Regions from separate parts of the Homo sapiens genome. Here region 1 is linked to region 2. A link means that fine-mapping ties the variant in region 2 to the expression of a gene that starts in the linked region. Tissue or cell type: spinal cord. Region 2 holds a variant in brackets; the other region holds the start of a gene. All regions are shown on one strand. Distances are from middle to middle. Region 1 holds the start of NLRP4 (NLR family pyrin domain containing 4). Region 2 overlaps NLRP4 (NLR family pyrin domain containing 4).

Region 1 (5,381 bases), 21 kb after region 2:
ATGTATCCCAAAACTTAAATTTAAAAAAAGAAAAAAAAAAAACAGGCTTAGTGTAAGAATTTCCATGTTCGGTCTACTTGTGAAAACAAATGCAAAAATTAAAAAGTCCATTAAGTGTAAGATCTGTACATTAGATAATATCATTCTATTAATTTCCTGTTTTTTATATAGTGTGGTTATCAAAAGAGCTTACTTTTATTTTTATTTTTAGAAGATAAACCCTGAAGCATTTAGGGTAAATTATTAGATGTAAATTTGTACAATGTGTACAAATCTTGAACAGATCAGGAAAAATACTTATATAAGAGTAGAGGGACACCATATAAGGTAAACTTTTAACATTTGGTGATCCTAAGGATATATTCTTGAAGCTGTTCTCTAAGTGTAAAATCACATCATTTTTTTCTTTTAATAGCGTACTAGCTTCCTTGGGCTGGCATGACAACGTACCACAAACTAGGTAACTTAAAACAGAAACCTACTGTCTCATGGTTCTGGAGCCTAGATGTCCAAAATCAAAGTGTTGGCAGGGTGCTGCTCTCTCTGAAACCCAGGGGAGCCCTTCCTTGCCTCTTACTGGCTTCTGTGGTTTGCTGGCAACCTGTGTCACTCTTTGGTTTGCAGCTATGTAATTTCACTCTGACTTTGTCACATGCCATTCTGCTTGTCTCTACCTTCATGTGGCCATTTTTTCTAAGATGGAGTTTCACTCTTGTTGCCCAGGCTGGAATGCAATGGCGCAATCTTGGCTCACTGCAACCTCTGCCTCCCAGGTTCAAGCAATCCTCCTGCCTCAGCCTCCTGAGTAGCTGGGATTACAGGCATGCGCCACCACAGTTGGCTAATTTTTTGTATTTCACCATGTTGGTCAGGCTGGTCTCGAACCCCCAACCTCGGGTGATCCACCCGCCTCGGCCTCCCAAAGTGCTGGGATTATAGGTGTGAGCCACTGCATCCAGCTTGAGACCGAGTCTCATTCTGTCACCCAGGCTGGAGTGCAATGGTGCAATCTCGGCACACTGCAATCTCCACCTCCTGGGTTCAGGCAATTCTCCTGCCTCAGCCTCCTGAGTAGCTGGGATTACAGGCACCTGCCACCATACCCAGCTGATTTTTGTATTTTTAGTAGAGACAGGGTTTTGCCATGTTTTCCAGGCTTGTCTTAAACTCCTGAGCTCAGATGATCCACCCACCTCAACCTCCCAAAGTGCTGGTGTTACAGGCATGAGCCACCACACCCAGCCGCATGTGGCCGTTTTCATAAGGACACCCGTCATTAAGTTAGGGGGGCCACTCACTCCAGTATGACCTCGCCTTAACTAATTACATCTGCAACAACCTTATTTTGTCACCCTATAAAGGGGTTAGGACTTTGTGTGTGTGTGTGTGTTTTTAGGGTTGGGACACAATTCAACCCTTAACAGTAAAAACCAACTTTTATTGATATAGAAAGATAAATATTCTTTCTATATACGTTTCATAGTCTAAACAAATGGCATAATTGGAGAAGGGGGATGAAAAGAGGTTGGCTAATGGATACCAAGTTACACCTGTAGGTAGGAATAGGTGCTGGTGTTCAGTAGCACTATAGGTTGAATATACTTAATATCTTATTATTTTCGAGGGTTTTTCTAACTTTTATGTTAGGTTCAGGGGTACATATACACTGGTTATACAGGTAAACTCGTGTCACAGGGGTTTGGTGTACAGTTTTTCATCTCCCAGGTATTAAGAATAGGACCCCATAGCTATCTTTTCCTGACCCTCTCCCTCCTCCCACCTAAGGAGAGGATTCTGAATGTTCCTAACACAAAGAAATGATACAGGTATGAGGAGATGGATATGCTCATTACCCTGATTTAATGATACGTATACATGTACCAACACATCTCTCTGCAGCTAATATACATAATTAGTATGAGTCAACTAGAAGTGTGATTTTCTTTTTAAATCACATTCTGGAATTACAGTATCAAAGACGTTTCTGCCCTAGGTCAGAGAGCAAGCTCACAAGAGCAGAGAGGGCTTGGGTCCCACCTTTCATGGGAAGTCCCCCCCCTTACCTCATCCCTGTCTATGTTCTCCAGCTTCTCCTACATGTTTGTGTCAACAGAGATGAAGAATCTAATAAGAACATTCCCACCCTCGAAGCTCCAAGGTCTCCCTTCGTGACGAGTCTCCCCCACCTCCACCCCCCATTCTTCTCACAGGTCTCAGGCTCCTGGGAGGCACCTTATAAACACAGGGCGTTCATCTACCCCACTAACTGGAGAGAAGGAAAACGCTGGGTAAATAGAATGGAGAGGCCTGGCTGTGATCGATCAGCCTCAAGAAAGGAGACAGGGTAAAAGGGAGAAAGAAAAGGAAGACCCAAAGTAACCCAGGAAATCAGCACATAGAAGAGACGAACAGCCCAGCACGAAGCGCTGACTCACCGCTCCACGCCTTCCTGGTCCTTAATGATTGGCGGCTGGAAGCGGGAAGAAAAGATCCGTGGTGCCATTTGATTGGCCAACGAATTGCTCCCTTGCCATTGGCTCAGAGGGCTTTTGATGAACAGATCCAGAAAATATGTGAAGCGAAACGCCCACCGCCCCTTGAGGGGCTGTTCTAGACCTTTGCTCCTGGTGTCGTATAGAGCGGGGGATATTTCAAGCTGGAGGTTCCTATTGAGAATTCCCAGGGCTCACGGCTGCAGGGATGCTCCTCCAGTCTCTCCAAAATGGTTCATTTGGAGAGTTGGGGTGACTCTGTTTATAATTTAAATGTCTAATTCCTTCCTACATGCTAAACTCCTTGAAGAATGTTCGTGTGGCACAACATCTTTCTGCCGTAACTAAACCTGTCGTGCAAGAAGAAATTATTAATTATTATTAGATACGGTCTCACTCGGTCACCCAGGCTGGAGTGCAGTGGCGTCATCTCGGCCCACTGTAACCTCCACCTCCCGGGTTCAAGAGATTCTCCTGCCTCAGCCTGCTGAGTAGCTGGGATTACAGATGCACACCACCATGCCCGGCTAATTTTTGTATTTTCAGTAGAGACGGGCTTTCGCCATGTTGGCCAGGCTGGTCTCGAACCCTTGACCTCAAGTGATCTGCCCGCCTCGGCCTCCCGAAGTGCTGGGATTACAGGCATGAGCCACTGTGCCTGGCCTCGGCTAATTTTTGTATTTTCAGTAGAGACAGGGTTTCACCATGTTGGCCAGGCTGGTCTCGAACCCTTGACCTCAAGTGTTCTGACCGCCTCGGCCTCCCAAAGTGCCGGAATTACAGGCATGAGCCACTGTGCCTGGCCTCGGCTAATTTTTGTATTTTCAGTAGAGACAGGGTTTCACCATGTTGGCCAGGCTGGTCTCGAACCCTTGACCTCAAGTGATCTGCCCGCCTCGGCCTCCCAAAGTGCCGGGATTACAGGCATGAGCCACTGTGCCTGGCCTCGGCTAATTTTTGTATTTTCAGTAGAGACAGGGTTTCACCATGTTGGCCAGGCTGGTCTCGAACCCTTGACCTCAAGTGATCTGCCCGCCTCGGCCTCCCAAAGTGCTGGGATTACAGGCATGAGCCACTGTGCCTGGCCTGCAAGAAGAACTTAATGGATATCGGCTACTGTCTTTCTGCGTAGGCAGAACAGGCGCTAAGTTTTTTAGACGCAAGGTCGAGATTTCATCATTGGGCATGGTTTTCCTGCTATTCCAGCTTCCCTACAATCGTTACAGTCATCTTCTGGGTTCACGCCAAACCTCAGTGTCCTAGGAGCTATCCTTTTACAATCACCATTTTAGTTCCTCCTTATAAGAATCCTGAGTTCAGTGTTACGATGGTGATGATCCTGGTTTTGAAATATACACATCAAGGAGTGCAGAGAAACATAATGAGAACTTTAAGGAATTACTGTAACCATAACACAAGTCTCTGTGGTCCAGAACCTAGATTGGGAAGCAGACATGATGGGGACCTTTGCAGACTCATGTACCCATAAGAGCATGCCCGTTGCATCCTCAGGGGTTCCCACCAAAATAAATTTCCAGTTGTGAAGTGAACTTCATTCCCTTCGATTTTCTTTTTATTTTTCCTGGTGATACATGTTCCCCTAAGAGATATGTTTTGTTTTCCTCATTTTCGAATTATAGTGTATCATTCTGTGACTTGATTCTTTTCACTTATTATGTTTTTGAGATTAATCAATGCGAGTTTGTTATAGCTGCGGTTCATTTCTAGGTCTTGCCTCACGGTATTTAAATGTATGACTAGGTCACCATTTAATGATCCATTCTGTCAGTGATAGGTGGTTGGGTGGTTTCTCAGTTTTTGCCAATATGAACAATGCTGTTTTGAACCTTCTTGCACACATCAGTGAGCCCACAGGACTTTTGGATTACCTGAGTGGAATGACTGAGTCCCTGAGGCACAGGTGACTTCAGTTGCCTCTTCAGAAGTGGTTTCACTAATTACATTAGCATCATGCACAGTTGAATATCCCCATAGCTGCACCTTACTGCCTACTCCTGATGTTGTTGACATTTTAAAGTAGTCACCAAATATTAGTTGGAAAAAGTATTTTGTTGTTTTCATTTGCTTTTATCTGATTATTAATATACTTGAACATTGTTCTCATGTTTGTGAGCCATTTGTTGCCTCTTTTGTGAAATACCTTTTCATTGTTTTCCTTGTATTTCTATTGGTTGTGTTCTGTTTTTATTTGCATGAAGAAGTGCTTTACCTTTTCTGAAAAAGTGGTTTGGTCAGTTATGTGTGATGCACGTATTTTCATATATCTCCTCCTAGTTTGTGGTTTGTAGCTTTTGTTATATAAGAACCATTCACTGAAGAGTTTTTATTTTAAATGAAATCAAATTGATCAAAATGTACTTTATGTTTTATAAATGTGAGGTCTTGTTGACAAAAATCATTCCCTACTCCAACTCATGAAGATATCTAATATTGCCTTTTAAAATATGATAGAGTTTTGAATTTCACACAGAAGTATTAAGTCACTTGTAATTATTTTTCTCTAAGGTAGGGAGAAGGGATCCATTTTTTTTTTTTCATTTAAATACAAATGGCACCAGCTCCATTTAATGAATAGTTCACCTACGCCACTGCCCAGAAATCTGTTATAAACCAGCTTTTCGTATTTGCCTACATTGGTTTCTGGGTTCTATGTTTTTTTCACTATTATTTGTTCATCCGTGTGCCAATAAGTCTTTTTTTTTTTTTTTTTTTTTTTTTTGAGACGGAGTCGCTCTGTCGCCCAGGCTGGAGTGCGGTGGCCTGATCTCGGCTCACTGCAAGCTCCTCCTCCCGGGCTCAAGTAATTCTCCTGCCTCAGCCTCCCGAGTAGCTGGGACTACAGGCGCCCGCCACCACACCTGGCTAAAT
Region 2 (5,381 bases):
TATAGGCATGAGCTGTAAGTTAAAATGTATATGATTTGGCCGGGCACGGTGGCTCACGCCTGTAATCCCAGCACTTTGAGAGGCCGAGGTGGGCAGATCACGAGGTCAGGAGATCGAGACCATCCTGGCCAACACGGTGAAACCCTGTCTCTACTAAAAACACAAAAAATTAGCTGGGTGTGGTGGCGGGCCCCTCTAGTCCCAGCTATTCGGGAGGCCGAGGCAGGAGAATGGCGTGAACCTGGGAGGCGGAGCTTGCAGTGAGCCAAGATCTCGCCACTGCACTCCAGCCTGGGTGACAAAGCAAAACTCCATTTCAGAAAAAAAAAAAAAAAGAACAAGAAGAAAATTTGTATGATTTGTGTTTTGTTTTTTTTTTTTTTTTTTTTTTTTTTGGAGATGAGAGTCTCACTGTCACCCAGCCTGGAGGGCAGTGGTGCGATCTCAGCTCACTGCAACCTCTGCCTCCCGGGCTCAAGTGATTCTCCGGCCTCAGCCTCCCAAGTAGCTGGGATTACAGGTGTGCGCTACACACCCGGCTAATTTTTGTATTTTTAGTGGAGACGAGGTGTCACCATGTTGGTCAGGCTAGTCTCGAACTCCTGACCTTAAGTGATCCACCTGCCTCAGCCTCCCACAGTGGTAGGGTTACAGGCATGAGCCACCACACCCGGGCTGTATGATTTTTTAGACTAAGTTTTCAAAGGTAACTTGCAGCTGAGAGGTCAAGACACAGGGAGTGTGGTGCTATGGAAAAATATCGATTATAGTACTGATCAGCTAATACTTGAGAAAGTAGGAAACACTCTTCACACAGGTCCTCATATTCACTCCTCACAATACAATTATTATTCCCCCTTCTGTAATGGGGCCACTGCAGCCACAAAAGGGCAAGGCTCACAGACAAAGTCTAAGAGCTCCTAAAATGTTGGGCCAGGATGTGAGCTGAGGTTTTGTGGCAGAAAAAATGAGTTTCTAACCATGATCCTATATTAAACACTCCCTCAGCAAAACCCACTTGGGAATACAGACAGATTCTGAGAAGAGAGAAAAAGTCATAGGATGGACTCACGTAGAGCTGTGTTCATCCTCTTTCTTAAAGACATTTTGAACGGAAAAACAGAGTTTCCTCAAGCTGGAGCAGTATTTTAAGCAGTAGGCAGAAACCACCAAGTCCACGTTGTCAATAATATGAAAGTTAGCTTCTTGGAGGAGGTTCACTGCCTGCTTCACAAAGGCAGGATCCTGCATTTCAAAGAGACAGTAAAATATCGCCAAGGAATCCACCTGTCCCTGAGGATTGCCACGCTCCCCTAAGCTCTTCAGGCACTGGTGAATTTGCTGCTTTATCTCTTGGGACAGTTGGAAGCCAAAAAACGCATCCAGTTTTTCTTGTTCCTTTTTATTTAAAAGGCCAGTTAGAAAACACCCCAAAAAAATCCAATGTGCTCTCCTTGCTTTTTCAAAATTGGCAACTAGCAATTCCTGTACACATCTCACAGCTGGGTGAGGATGATCAAGGTGGCTCTTGAGCAAATAGAACAAGGCGGCACAGAACTCCTGGATACACACGTGGAGGAACACGTAGGAGCTCTCACGCTCCCCGTACTTCAGAAGTATCTTGGTGCCCAGCAGCGCAGGGATGTCAGCGTCAACAACCCCATTTCTCCGGAGGTCGTCTTCACAAAACTCAAATGTGTCTGTCCACATACCCTCTGCAGCCAGGGAGCACAGGGCCTTCAGCTGGTGCTGGGTTTGCGGAGTCGGGCCCTCGGCACCCTCAGGTGTGAACAGGTTAAAGACGAAAGAGGAGTACACAGAGGTAGTGCTCTGGCAGGTCAGGGCCAGGTCTTTTCCTTTCTGCATCTCTTGCTTCAGACTGGTACACAGGATCCAGCAGAGGAGCGGGATTTGGCATATGGAAAACAGCTGTTCACTTTCTCTTACAAGATTGAAGGCTTCCATGGCTCTTTTCGGGTCTTTGAAGAAACAGCAGAAATACACTAACCTATCACTCTCGTTGAATCCCCGGGGCTGGTAGATTTCTGAGATCGTCACCTGATCCCGGAGCTCCTTCGGGCACACGGGTTTGATAGCGATGAGCAGGGAGGCCTCCGGGAGCATCTTCTTCCTCAGCAAACTGCTCAGAAGCACCTGCACCGGCCGTTTCTCCATCAAGTCACCACACAGATCCGAATCGGGTTCGTTCAAGCCGCCCTGCAGCTCTTCGAAGCTGTCGATGACGAACAAGAGTCTCTCCGGTTGAGACACGATCTCTGTTATAGGAGCAGCGGGGTCAGGCCACTCTCTGGAAATCAAGTCAGCCAAACTCGTTGGCGGCAACTCCCTCAGTTCTCTGCAGCAGAAATAGAACGTGTACAGGAACCTATCCCGAAAGATCTTGTTGTCCGACCAGGCCATCATCAGCTTCATCAGGAGTGTCGTTTTTCCAATTCCTTGTGGTCCTTGAATGATCACTGTACGTGGCTGTTTCCCAGCTTCCTTGGGAGCAAAAAGGCGGTCCAAATGGTCACATTCTTCTTGCTTGACTTCCTCCTCAAAGTATAGGTGAATCTCAGTGACAGACTTGCTGGACCATAAGCGGCTGAATTTCTGCTTTGCGTGAGCTTGATAGGTCTTTGTGTATCCTGAGTCAGTGAGGGCAAGAGGAGAGAAAACCCACAAAGTTAAGCATTCCTGCATATATTCTTTTTTTCTTCTCAGGATGTATCTTTCCAGGGGTCTACACACTGTGGCCCCCAGGCCAAACCTGGTCAGTCTCCTCTTGTAAATAAAGTTTCATTAGAACTCACTACACCATTCACGGGTATATTGTCTACAGGAGCCTTCCTGATTGAATAGCAGAGCTGAACAG[C/A]TATGAGAGACCGTATGACTCACAAAGCCTAAAATGGAAACCATATGGTCCTCTACACAAAAAGGTTGACAACTTCTGCTTTCAATAGACACACACACACACACACACACACACACACACATTCATTGCTACTACGTAAAGTTTGACAACTTCTGCTTTCAATAGACACACACACACACATATACATTCATTGCTACTATGTAAAGTTTGACAACTTCTGCTTTCAATAGACACATACACAGGTATTCATTGCTACGATGATAGCAAAATAAATGGAAAATAGCTATATGACTATCAAGACCAGTTAAATAATTTATGAGACACAAGCTATTATACAAATATTAAAAGTATGGAATAATCTCTTCATATGGATAAGCAACAGGACGGTGTCTATAGCATGTACTCAATTTGCATAAACAAGGGATTTATATACACATATAGGTTTCACATATAGGGACTAGATCTGAAAGTCCACCTAAAAAGGACCTGACCTAGGCAGTTGCCTCCAGAAGAGAGAGGAGATGCAGTAGAGAGGATAGAATGGCACCTCGCATCCATTCCAACTTTATGCCAGTGAGCTTTCTTTCAATGGCAGAATTCTCAAAAGAAAAGCCAATCAAAAAATCCAACAACAGGCCGGGGCAGTGGTTCATGCCTGTAATCCCAGAACTTTGGGAGGCCAAGGTGGGCAGATCATGAAGTCAAGAGATCAAGACCATCCTGGCCAACATGGTGAAACCCTGTCTCTACTAAAAATACAAAAATTAGCCGGGCGTGGTGGTGTGTGCCTGTAGTCCCAGCTACTTGGGAGGCTGAGGCAGGAGAATCGCTTGAACCCGGGAGGCAGAGGTTGCAGTGAGCTGAGATGGCACTGCTGTACTCTAACGTGGGCAACAGAAGGAGGCTCCGTCTCAAAAAAAAAAAAAAAAAAAAAAGATCCAGCAACAGTGATGACCAAGCCCTACGCATCCCACAACCCCTCGTAGCTAAGATCAAGGTACAGATTAAGTTCTGCGATTGGCCCTCACTCTCATGACACTGGAAGGGGAAGGGGAGTGGAGTCTATCTTCTGCCTGTTTTGCTGCCAGCTTCCATGAACACACAGACGCTGGACTCTTCTGTAACAGAAGGCTTGTCTCCAGTTGCTGTAGTTGGCTGGGCGCAGTGGCTCACGCCTATAATCCCAGCACTTTGGGAGGCTGAGGCAGGCAGATCACTTCAGGCTAGGAGATCGAGACCAGCCTGGTCAACATGGTGAAACCCCATCTCTACTAAAAATACAAAAATTAGCTGGGCGTGGTGGTACAGGCCTATAATCCCAGCTACTCGGGAGGCCAGGGCAGAAGAATCGCTTGAACCTGGGAGGTGGAGGTTGCAGTGAGCAGAGATTGCACCACTGTAATCTAGCCCTGGCAATAGAGCGAGACTGTCTCGAAAACTAAAACCAGTTGCTGTGGTCATTGATTTTAAGCAGCTGCTACACTGGTGAGCTTCCCGATTTCTGAATCATAGCTGTCGTGGTGTATTTCTAAAGCCACAGTTCTAACAGTGAGCTTCCCATCTCCCACTTTCCTCTTTGCAGGAGAGGCAGCAGCTCCCTGATACTATAGTTCTTACAGTCATCTCTGGAGCACCAGCCTAGAGGCTGATCCTTCAGCCAGGCCGAAAACTCCTTTACAGTTATCTGTTCCTTAAATAACTAGTACGATGTTTATATTCTGCAAGTGAGTAGCTGCTGATGGACTGGAGATGTAGGGGGCAGTTGTAGATGGGAAATTTTCCCTATGCCCCGCATAATAGTTACTGGATTTGATTGGATGCAGGTGAAAGATATAATCCAGTGCCCACAGACTGCTGACAGTAGGTAATGCTACCTTAAGTTTTTGGGGAGAACAAGGGATTCCCCCAATCTTTCAGTCCCCTGAAGTCCCTAACTGGTGAAAATGCCATCTGACATTGGTGAAGATCCTATTAGCATCTTAAGCTAAGTTGTTTGCCCATTCCCCAATGGCTTCCTGCTTTCCTGGTCTTCTCAGCTGTTCTGGAGATTTCGGTGACATGTTTGGTTGCTCATAAGGGGAATTAAGTGGGTACAACCTCAAACCAACTGTGAAAAGAGAGAAGTGTAAGTACCCAGTGGAAGATCTAACTTTAGACCTGCTTACATTTTATTTTAGCAATATTCTAAAATGGTTCCATGTGCAAAGAATGTTCTTCTTTATATAAATTACTTTTTTGAGACAGGGTCTCACTCTGTTACCCAGGCTGGAGTGCAGTGGCACAAACACAGCTCACTGCAGCCTCATCCTCCTGGGCTGAAGTGATCCTCCTGCCTCAGCTTCCAGGGTAGCTGAGACCTCAGCGTGTGACACCAAAACACTCCAGGAAACATGGGGGAATTTGTTTAAAAATTTGGACTGGGTGGCCAGGTGTGGTGGTTCACACCTGTAATCCTAGCCCTTTGGGAAGCCAAGGCGGGCGGATCACCGGAGGTCAGCAGTTCAAC

Evidence for each region. PIP is the estimated chance that this variant, and not a neighbour inherited with it, causes the effect.
Region 1: NLRP4 starts here. The variant in region 2 is fine-mapped to the expression of NLRP4 in spinal cord (GTEx, PIP 0.95).

What each region holds. Positions count from the first base shown.
Region 1 is chr19:55,833,617-55,838,997 of GRCh38, reverse strand. It overlaps NLRP4 (NLR family pyrin domain containing 4), which reads right to left and starts at 2,458. Exons shown (of 10, transcript NM_134444.5): 1 at 2,064-2,458. It also overlaps a transcript of NLRP11 not described here.
Region 2 is chr19:55,854,941-55,860,321 of GRCh38, reverse strand. NLRP4 (NLR family pyrin domain containing 4) reads right to left here. Exons shown (of 10, transcript NM_134444.5): 3 at 1,073-2,648. Among named protein-coding and RNA genes, the nearest start is that of NLRP4, 21 kb to the right of the region's middle. The variant C/A (reference allele first, on the strand shown) is at 2,876.